Homo sapiens: one gene and its partner. The protein of the gene in region 2 interacts with the protein of the main gene of each other region in a pairwise test. Each region holds a gene or a part of one and is shown on either strand. Other genes may lie near its edges.

Region 1 (3,928 bases), on a different chromosome or scaffold from region 2:
CAGCAAAGGGCAAGCAAGTGGTCAAATTACTTTCTCTCCACATTTCAGAGAATGCACTGACTAAGGATCTGGACAATCTCTGACCTATCAATGCAGGGGGTGGCTCTTGGGTTAAATCACTTCCTAAAGAGACATCTCCGTGCCCTGCTGGGAGGCCTATGGTGAACCCTGTGATAGACCTGGGGACCAGGACTTGGTGAAGGGGGCATAGGTCTGAGGGAGGAGGTGCACAAGAGCTCCATACCATGCAGGCTGAAACTGGAGTCGGCTGGTCTAGGGCGTCCCACAGGACTAGGTGTGGGTGGTAGAGGGTAGCATTGGGGGAAGGCTGCCCGACAGCGTGGAATGCACAATGGGGTTACTAGGAAAGAAGGGCTGATCCCAGCCATGTGGTTTGCTTGGGGTATCATCAAGGGCTGCTGATACAGGGGTGCTGCCTTCCCTTCTTCTGCAGGTGAAAAAGGCACATTCTCTCTTCTCATGTCTGAGATGTCTCCATCTTGAGCATGGAACTCCAAGCTGAAGTCATCAACGGAAGGTATGATGTACTGGATCTGCACAGGGGACTGCAGGCCATCTTCTGACCTCAGGACATGCTCAGGGACAATCACAAGGACTGTGTTCTCCAGGGTCAGCTGCAGCACTGTCTCTGGGGCCAAGATGAGGATGACCTCTTCCAGGCTCAACCTCACTTCTGTCCCTTGTTCCAGGACTATCATGAGCTCCTCAGTGCCAGAATCCTGCTGATTCTGTGGAAAGACAGTCCTCAGTATTCTGCCCTCCAAAAAGGCTGCAAATGATGCTCATGGGGAGGGAGATGCCAGGAGCTTCACCCTTTACAACTTTAAAATACAAACTCCCTCCCAGAATTGGTGCTCATGCCAATCCACCTAAATATACATCCACTGGATGTCCCTTGAACCTGAAGATTGTGCAGCACTGTCCAATCTTTGCTATGCAAGGACACAGGAACTTACCTGGGGAAGTTCCAGGGACTGGTATGAATTCAGGTGTGGAGCTCCTGAAATTGAGGGTTTTTTTGCACCTGCAGAGAGACCACAGTGAGGGAGGTTAAGGCTCTCTTCCAGCAAGAGTCTCTTGCATTTCAGAATGTGACCTTCAGAAATCCACCACCCAGCACTGGCCAGCCTCAGGACACCAGCCCCCAACAGTCAAGCACGACTTTCCACTCACCCTGCAGAAAGCACCCTCTCCATTTATGGTATCATGAGACATGACACTGACTTCCAGGCATGGGAATCTTAAAAAATATTAGGGAAAGTGCCTTACCTGTACTGGGACCCTGCTCCACTTGGCGACGTTTGGGTGGATTCATTTGTGTGGTAGCCAAACTGCAGGACAGAAAGGGACCCATCAATCTTCCACATAGTGACACAAAGTCCAATTCTCACAAGCCCCAAACTTCATTAGTCATCCGGCACACATTGCTGCTGTGGCCCAAAATCACATGCACTTGTGTTCAGCTCCAAATCCTACCTGCATCCAGAAAGTCCTAACACTCATATCCCACCCTCTCCTTTTCTAGAGGCTTTTCCTATCGGTGCATGTGTGTGATAAGACATGGCGATCACAGGAAACAGTTTGCTTTTTCAGGAGCTCATCCACATGAGAAGGAGGGACATCAAATTTGGCCCGAGGACTTTAGGAGAAGATGCTGATTTTCCGGGTATCTAACCCCTGTGTCTATGCAGTTACAGTGTGAATGGAGTGATAAATGACATGAAATGTTCCATTTTCTAGTGAGCACAAGGAAAAAATTTAGATCATGCCCACAGTTTACCTGTCTCCACACAAGAGGCAACTTCTGTTTACCCAGAGGACAGAGATTAACAATGGGAAGAAACATGAGATGAGCCCCCTGACAGGCTGCAGAAACCCCCCATGCTGGCTGCATCCTGTGGCCTCCACTGTGGGTCTCATGTCTCCCCAATGTGTTCTAAATTTATAACATTCAATGTCATGGCAGGCCAGGGTGTCTTCTCTGCCCTAGTTTGGCCCTTTAGCATACATTCACACACACACACACACATACAGTCACACACAGTCACATGTCAACCTCCTGGCAACCCAAAGTAGCCACATACTCCAACATACCTGGTCTCTCCTTCATTGTCATTCTGCGGTTCTGTCTGGGAATCTCTGGGGCTTCTTAAGCGCCGGTAACCATACATGGTAAAAGTTCTCTGGACTTGCTTGTGTCAAAAAAATCTCAATCTTTGGCCTATTTTCTGTAAATCTATATAGTTCGTGCCTTGATCTTTTACTCTACCTGGAGAAAAATTATCAGCCTCTAGCACAGCACAGCCAGAGCATGGAAGAGTGTGTCCTGGCCTGGGACCGGTCAAATGGTGCTTTGGTAGAGTGAGCTCTTGGGGAAATCCTCCAAGGGTCTTATAAGAGGTGGAGCCATGGGATTTGTCAAAATGGATGAATGTGATTGGCTAGTGGTGCTGATTAAACAACATGAAGGGCCAGCATGGGAGTGGTTTTATCAAAACTCAGTCAATATGAGTGTGACCCAGTCAGAATTAGCCTAATTCAATCAAAATTAATTCAAGATCTCTACTCTGATTCACCATATAATTGTGACATAAAATAACAGTATTTTAAACTAGCAATATTTACTTTCTATTGTAGTCTGTTCATTAATTTGGTAGGACAGTTATTTTCTGTAAAGTTCATGTGTACGTCGTTTCTTAGTAAACATAAAGGATTGGGTCTAGGAAACTTTAAATATGCCACAATTTGTATATACTCAAGTCCCTTGTATAAAACGGCGTAGAATTTGAATATAACATAATCACATTAATTTATATAATTTAAATGATCTCTAGATTACTTACAATACTTAATGCAATGCCCAGACGTCACGTCATTTATGTGAACTCAAAAAGAATGTGATGCATGGAAAATTTAAAGTTTCTCTGAAGAAACTTGTGCAAATCTTTTGTGAATATTTTCTATTCAAGATTAGTTGGATCCATGAATATGGAACCTATGGATGTGGAGGGCTGACAGTATTTTTAAATAAAAAAAAATACGTTATTTTAAGTGAATTAAGTTTTAAAATGAATCTCCTGGGGAAAGTTATCCAAACAGAAGAAGCGAATACTATAAGACAAGCTGGGGAAAATACAAAAAGAACCTTTACTTAATTTCTAATATATCACTGTGTATTAATCTGTCTGTTAATTTATTTCTTGCCTGTATCCCCGCTGGACTAATTTCAGAATTGTAATGCAAGTTTTGCTTTCAACATTACTTATTAATTACAAATCCATCATTCTTATTGGCAAAGTCACCTAAACTTCTTGCAGGTGGCCAGACACCATATGCCTGAACTCAGAATTAGTCATTTTAAGATTAAAAATTATTTGACAGTATAAAGAATAATAGATGGTATTGGGGGAAAACAGTAATCCAGTAATCACTAGAACTGAACTAGAAGGAAAATCTGTGAGGGTGCACCATTACTGAGCGTGCCATCTCTAACAGGCCCCTGAGCTCAGGGCTTCATCCTCTCTCTAGAACTTGTATAAATTTGTTTGTGGATTCTCTTTGCATTTAGCTGATAATTTCATCAGTTTTATTAGGTGAAGTATAGACCCTGTTTCCCTTAAATGTTAAAAAAAAATTGAATCTAATTAGCAGATGCCTTTTGCACTGAAGCTTTCTTCTCCAGTTAGATAAATCATTTAGATGAATAAAAGGAAAACAGGAAGATTCCTTTAATTTTGCCAATGTCTTAAAAGCCTCCAAGGGGAACATTAGTGCCTTTATCCAGAGAACTCTCTGCTTTGGGGATTTTGATAATTTCTGAGGAGAACAGCAGGTAATTAGCTGAATATCAGCTGCAGTTATAAAATTGGATTAATTGCCTACATTCTTTCTGGCTGCGGGGTTCAGG
Region 2 (3,828 bases):
ATGGGAGTTCACTCATGATTTGGCTCTCTGTCTGTTGTTGGTGTATAAGAATGCTTGTGATTTTTGTACATTGATTTTGTATCCTGAGACTTTGCTGAAATTGCTTATCAGCTTAAGGAGAGTTTGGGCTGAGACAATGGGGTTTTCTAGATATACAATCATGTCGTCTGCAAACAGGGACAATTTGACTTCCTCTTTTCCTAATTGAATAGCCTTTATTTCCTTCTCCTGCCTAATTGCCCTGGCCAGAACTTCCAACACTATGTTGAATAGGAGTGGTGAGAGAGGGCATCCCTGTCTTGTGCCAGTTTTCAAAGGGAATGCTTCCAGTTTTGGCCCATTCAGTATGATATTGGCTGTGGGTTTGTCATAGATAGCTCTTATTATTTTCAGATACGTCCCATCAATACCTAATTTATTGAGAGTTTTTAGCATGAAGTGTTGTTGAATTTTGTCAAAGGCCTTTTCTGCATCTATTGAGATAATCATGTGGTTTTTGTCTTTGGTTCTGTTTATATGCTGGATTACATTTATTGATTTGCGTATATTGAACCAGGCTTGTATCCCAGGGATGAAGCCCACTTGATCATGTTGGATAAGCTTTTTCATGTGCTGCTGGATTCGGTTTGCCAGTATTTTATTGAAGATTTTTGCATCAATGTTCATCAAGGATATTGGTCTAAAATTCTCTTTTTTGGTTGTGTCTCTGCCCAGCTTTGGTATCAGGATGATGCTGGCCTCATAAAATGAGTTAGGGAGGATTCCCTCTTTTTCTATTGATCGGAATAGTTTCAGAAGGAATGGTACCATTTCCTCCTTGTACCTCTGGTAGAATTCGGCTGTGAATCCATCTGGTCCTGGACTCTTTTTGGTTGGTAAGCTATTGATTATTGCCACAATTTCAGCTCCTGTTATTGGTCTATTCAGAGGTTCAACTTCTTCCTGGTTTAGTCTTGGGAGAGTGTATGTGTCCAGGAATTTATCCATTTCTTCTAGATTTTCTAGTTTATTTGCGTAGAGGTGTTTGTAGTATTCTCTGATGGTAGTTTGTATTTCTGTGGGATAGGTGGTGATATCCCCTTTATCATTTTTTATTGCGTCTATTTGATTCTTCTCTCTTTTTTTCTTTATTCGTCTTGCTAGCGGTCTATCAATTTTGTTCATCCTTTCAAAAAACCAGCTCCTGGATTCATTAATTTTTTGAAGGGTTTTTTGTGTCTCTGTTTCCTTCATTTCTGCTCTGATTTTAGTTATTTCTTGCCTTCTGCTAGCTTTTGAAAGTGTTTGCTCTTGCTTTTCTAGTTCTTTTAATTGTGATGTTAGGATGTCAATTTTGGATCTTTCCTGCTTTCTCTTGTGGGCATTTAGTGCTATAAATTTCCCTCTACACACTGCTTTGAATGCATCCCAGAGATGCTGGTATGTTGTGTCTTTGTTCTCGTTGGTTTCAAAGAACATCTTTATTTCTGCCTTCATTTTGTTATGTACCCAGTAGTCATTCAGGAGCATGTTGTTCAGTTTCCATGTAGTTAAGCGGTTTTGAGTGAGATTCTTAATCCTGAGTTCTAGTTTGATTGCACTGTGGTCTGAGAGATAGTTTGTTATAATTTCTGTTCTTTTACATTTGCTGAGGAGAGCTTTACTTCCAAGTATGTGGTCAATTTTGGAATAGGTGTGGTGTGGTGCTGAAAAAAATGTATATTCTGTTGATTTGGGGTGTAGAGTTCTGTAGATGTCTATTAAGTCCACTTGGTGCAGAGCTGAGTTCAATTCCTGGGTATCTTTGTTGACTTTCTGTCTCGTTGATCTGTCTAATGTTGACAGTGGAGTGTTAAAGTCTCCCATTATTAATGTGTGGGAGTCTAAGTCTCTTTGTAGGTCACTCAGGACTTGCTTTATGAATCTGGGTGCTCCTGTATTGGGTGCATATATATTTAGGTTAGCTCTTCTTGTTGAATTGATCCCTTTACCATTAAGTAATGGCCTTCTTTGTATCTTTTGATCTTTGTTGGTTTAAGGTCTGTTTTATCAGAGACTAGGATTGCAACCCCTGCCTTTTTTTGTTTTCCATTTGCTTGGTAGATCTTCCTCCATCCTTTTATTTTGAGCCTATGTGTGTCTCTGCACGTGAGATGGGTTTCCTGAATACAGCACACTGATGGGTCTTGACTCTTTATCCAATTTGCCAGTCTGTGTCTTTTAATTGGAGCATTTAGTCCATTTACATTTAAAGTTAATATTGTTATGTGTGAATTTGATCCTGTCATTATGATGTTAGCTGGTTATTTTGCTCATTAGTTGATGCAGTTTCTTCCTAGTCTCGATGGTCTTTACATTTTGGCGTGATTTTGCAGCGGCTGGTACCAGTTGTTCCTTTCCACGTTTAGCGCTTCTTCAGGCGCTCTTTTAGGGCAGGCCTGGTGGTGACAAAATCTCTCAGCATTTGCTTGTCTGTAAAGTATTTTATTTCTCCTTCACTTATGAAGCTTAGTTTGGCTGGATATGAAATTCTGGGTTGAAAATTCTTTTCTTTAAGAATGTTGAATATTGGCCTCCACTTTCTTCTGGCTTGTAGCCTTCATTTCATTCATTTCATCTTCCATCGCTGATACCCTTCCTTCCAGTTGATCACATCGGCTCCTGAGGCTTCTGCATTCTTCACGTAGTTCTCGAGCCTTGGTTTTCAGCTCCATCAGCTCCTTTAAGCACTTTTCTTTATTGGTTATTGTAGTTATACATTCTTCCAAATTTTTTTCAAAGTTTTCAACTTCTTTGCCTTTGGTTTGAATTTCCTCCTGTAGCTCGGAGTAATTTGATCGTCTGAAGCCTTCTTCTCTCAGCTCGTCAAAGTCATTCTCCATCCAGCTTTGTTCTGTTGCTGGTGAGGAACTGCGTTCCTCTGGAGGAGGAGAGGCACTCTGCTTTTTAGAGTTTCCAGTTTTTCTGCTCTGTTTTTTCCCCATCTTTGTGGTTTTATCTACTTTTGGTCTTTGATGATGGTGATGTACAGATGGGTTTTTGGTGTGGATGTCCTTTCTGTTTGTTAGTTTTCCTTCAAACAGACAGGACCCTCGGCTGCAGGTCTGTTGGAGCACCCGGCCGTGTGAGGTGTCAGTCTGCCCCTGCTGGGGGGTGCCTCCCAGTTAGGCTGCTCGGGGGTCAGGGGCCAGGGACCCACTTGAGGAGGCAGTCTGCCCGTTCTCAGATCTCCAGCTGCGTGCTGGGAGAACCACTGCTCTCTTCAAAGCTGTCAGACAGGGACATTTAAGTCTGCAGAGTTTACTGCTGTCTTTTTGTTTGTCTGTGCCCTGCCCCCAGAGGTGGAGCCTACAGAGGCAGGCAGGCCTCCTTGAGCTGTGGTGGGCTCCACCCAGTTGGAGCTTCCCAGCTGCTTTGTTTACCTAAGCAAGCCTGAGCAATGGCGGGCGCCCCTCCCCCAGCCTCGCTGCCGCCTTGCAGTTTGATCTCAGACTGCTGTGCTAGCAATTAGCGAGACTCCGTGGGCGTAGGACCCTCCGAGCCGGGTGGGGGATATAATCTCCTGGTCCGCCGTTTTTTAAGCCTGTCGGAAAAGCGCAGTATTCGGGTGGGAGTGACCCGATTTTCCAGGTGCCGTCTGTCACCACTTTCTTTGACTAGGAAAGGGAACTCCCTGACCCCTTGCGCTTCCCAAGTGAGGCAATGCCTCGCCCTGCTTCGGCTCGCGCACGGTGCACGCACCCACTGACCTGCGCCCACTGTCTGGCACTCCCTAGTGAGATGAACCCTGTACCTCAGATGGAAATGCAGAAATCACCCGTCTTCTGCGTCGCTCACGCTGGGAGCTGT

Evidence for each region.
Region 1: the proteins of IQUB (region 2) and PRR23D2 interact in a two-hybrid assay, tested with the Homo sapiens proteins (one large-scale study listed by BioGRID).

The regions. Positions count from the first base shown.
Region 1 is NC_000008.11:7,779,045-7,782,972, forward strand, and holds the start of PRR23D2 (proline-rich protein 23D2), read right to left. Parts: upstream 2,370-3,928; 5' UTR 2,193-2,369; coding exon 2,116-2,192; intron 1,353-2,115; coding exon 1,291-1,352; intron 1,046-1,290; coding exon 978-1,045; intron 750-977; coding exon 117-749; 3' UTR 1-116.
Region 2 is NC_000007.14:123,524,473-123,528,300, forward strand, and holds part of IQUB (IQ motif and ubiquitin-like domain-containing protein), read right to left. Parts: exon of another isoform or gene 3,773-3,828; intron 1-3,772. UniProt on the Homo sapiens protein: Adapter protein that anchors the radial spoke 1 (RS1) complex to the A microtubule of outer doublet microtubules in axonemes. The triple radial spokes (RS1, RS2 and RS3) are required to modulate beating of the sperm flagellum.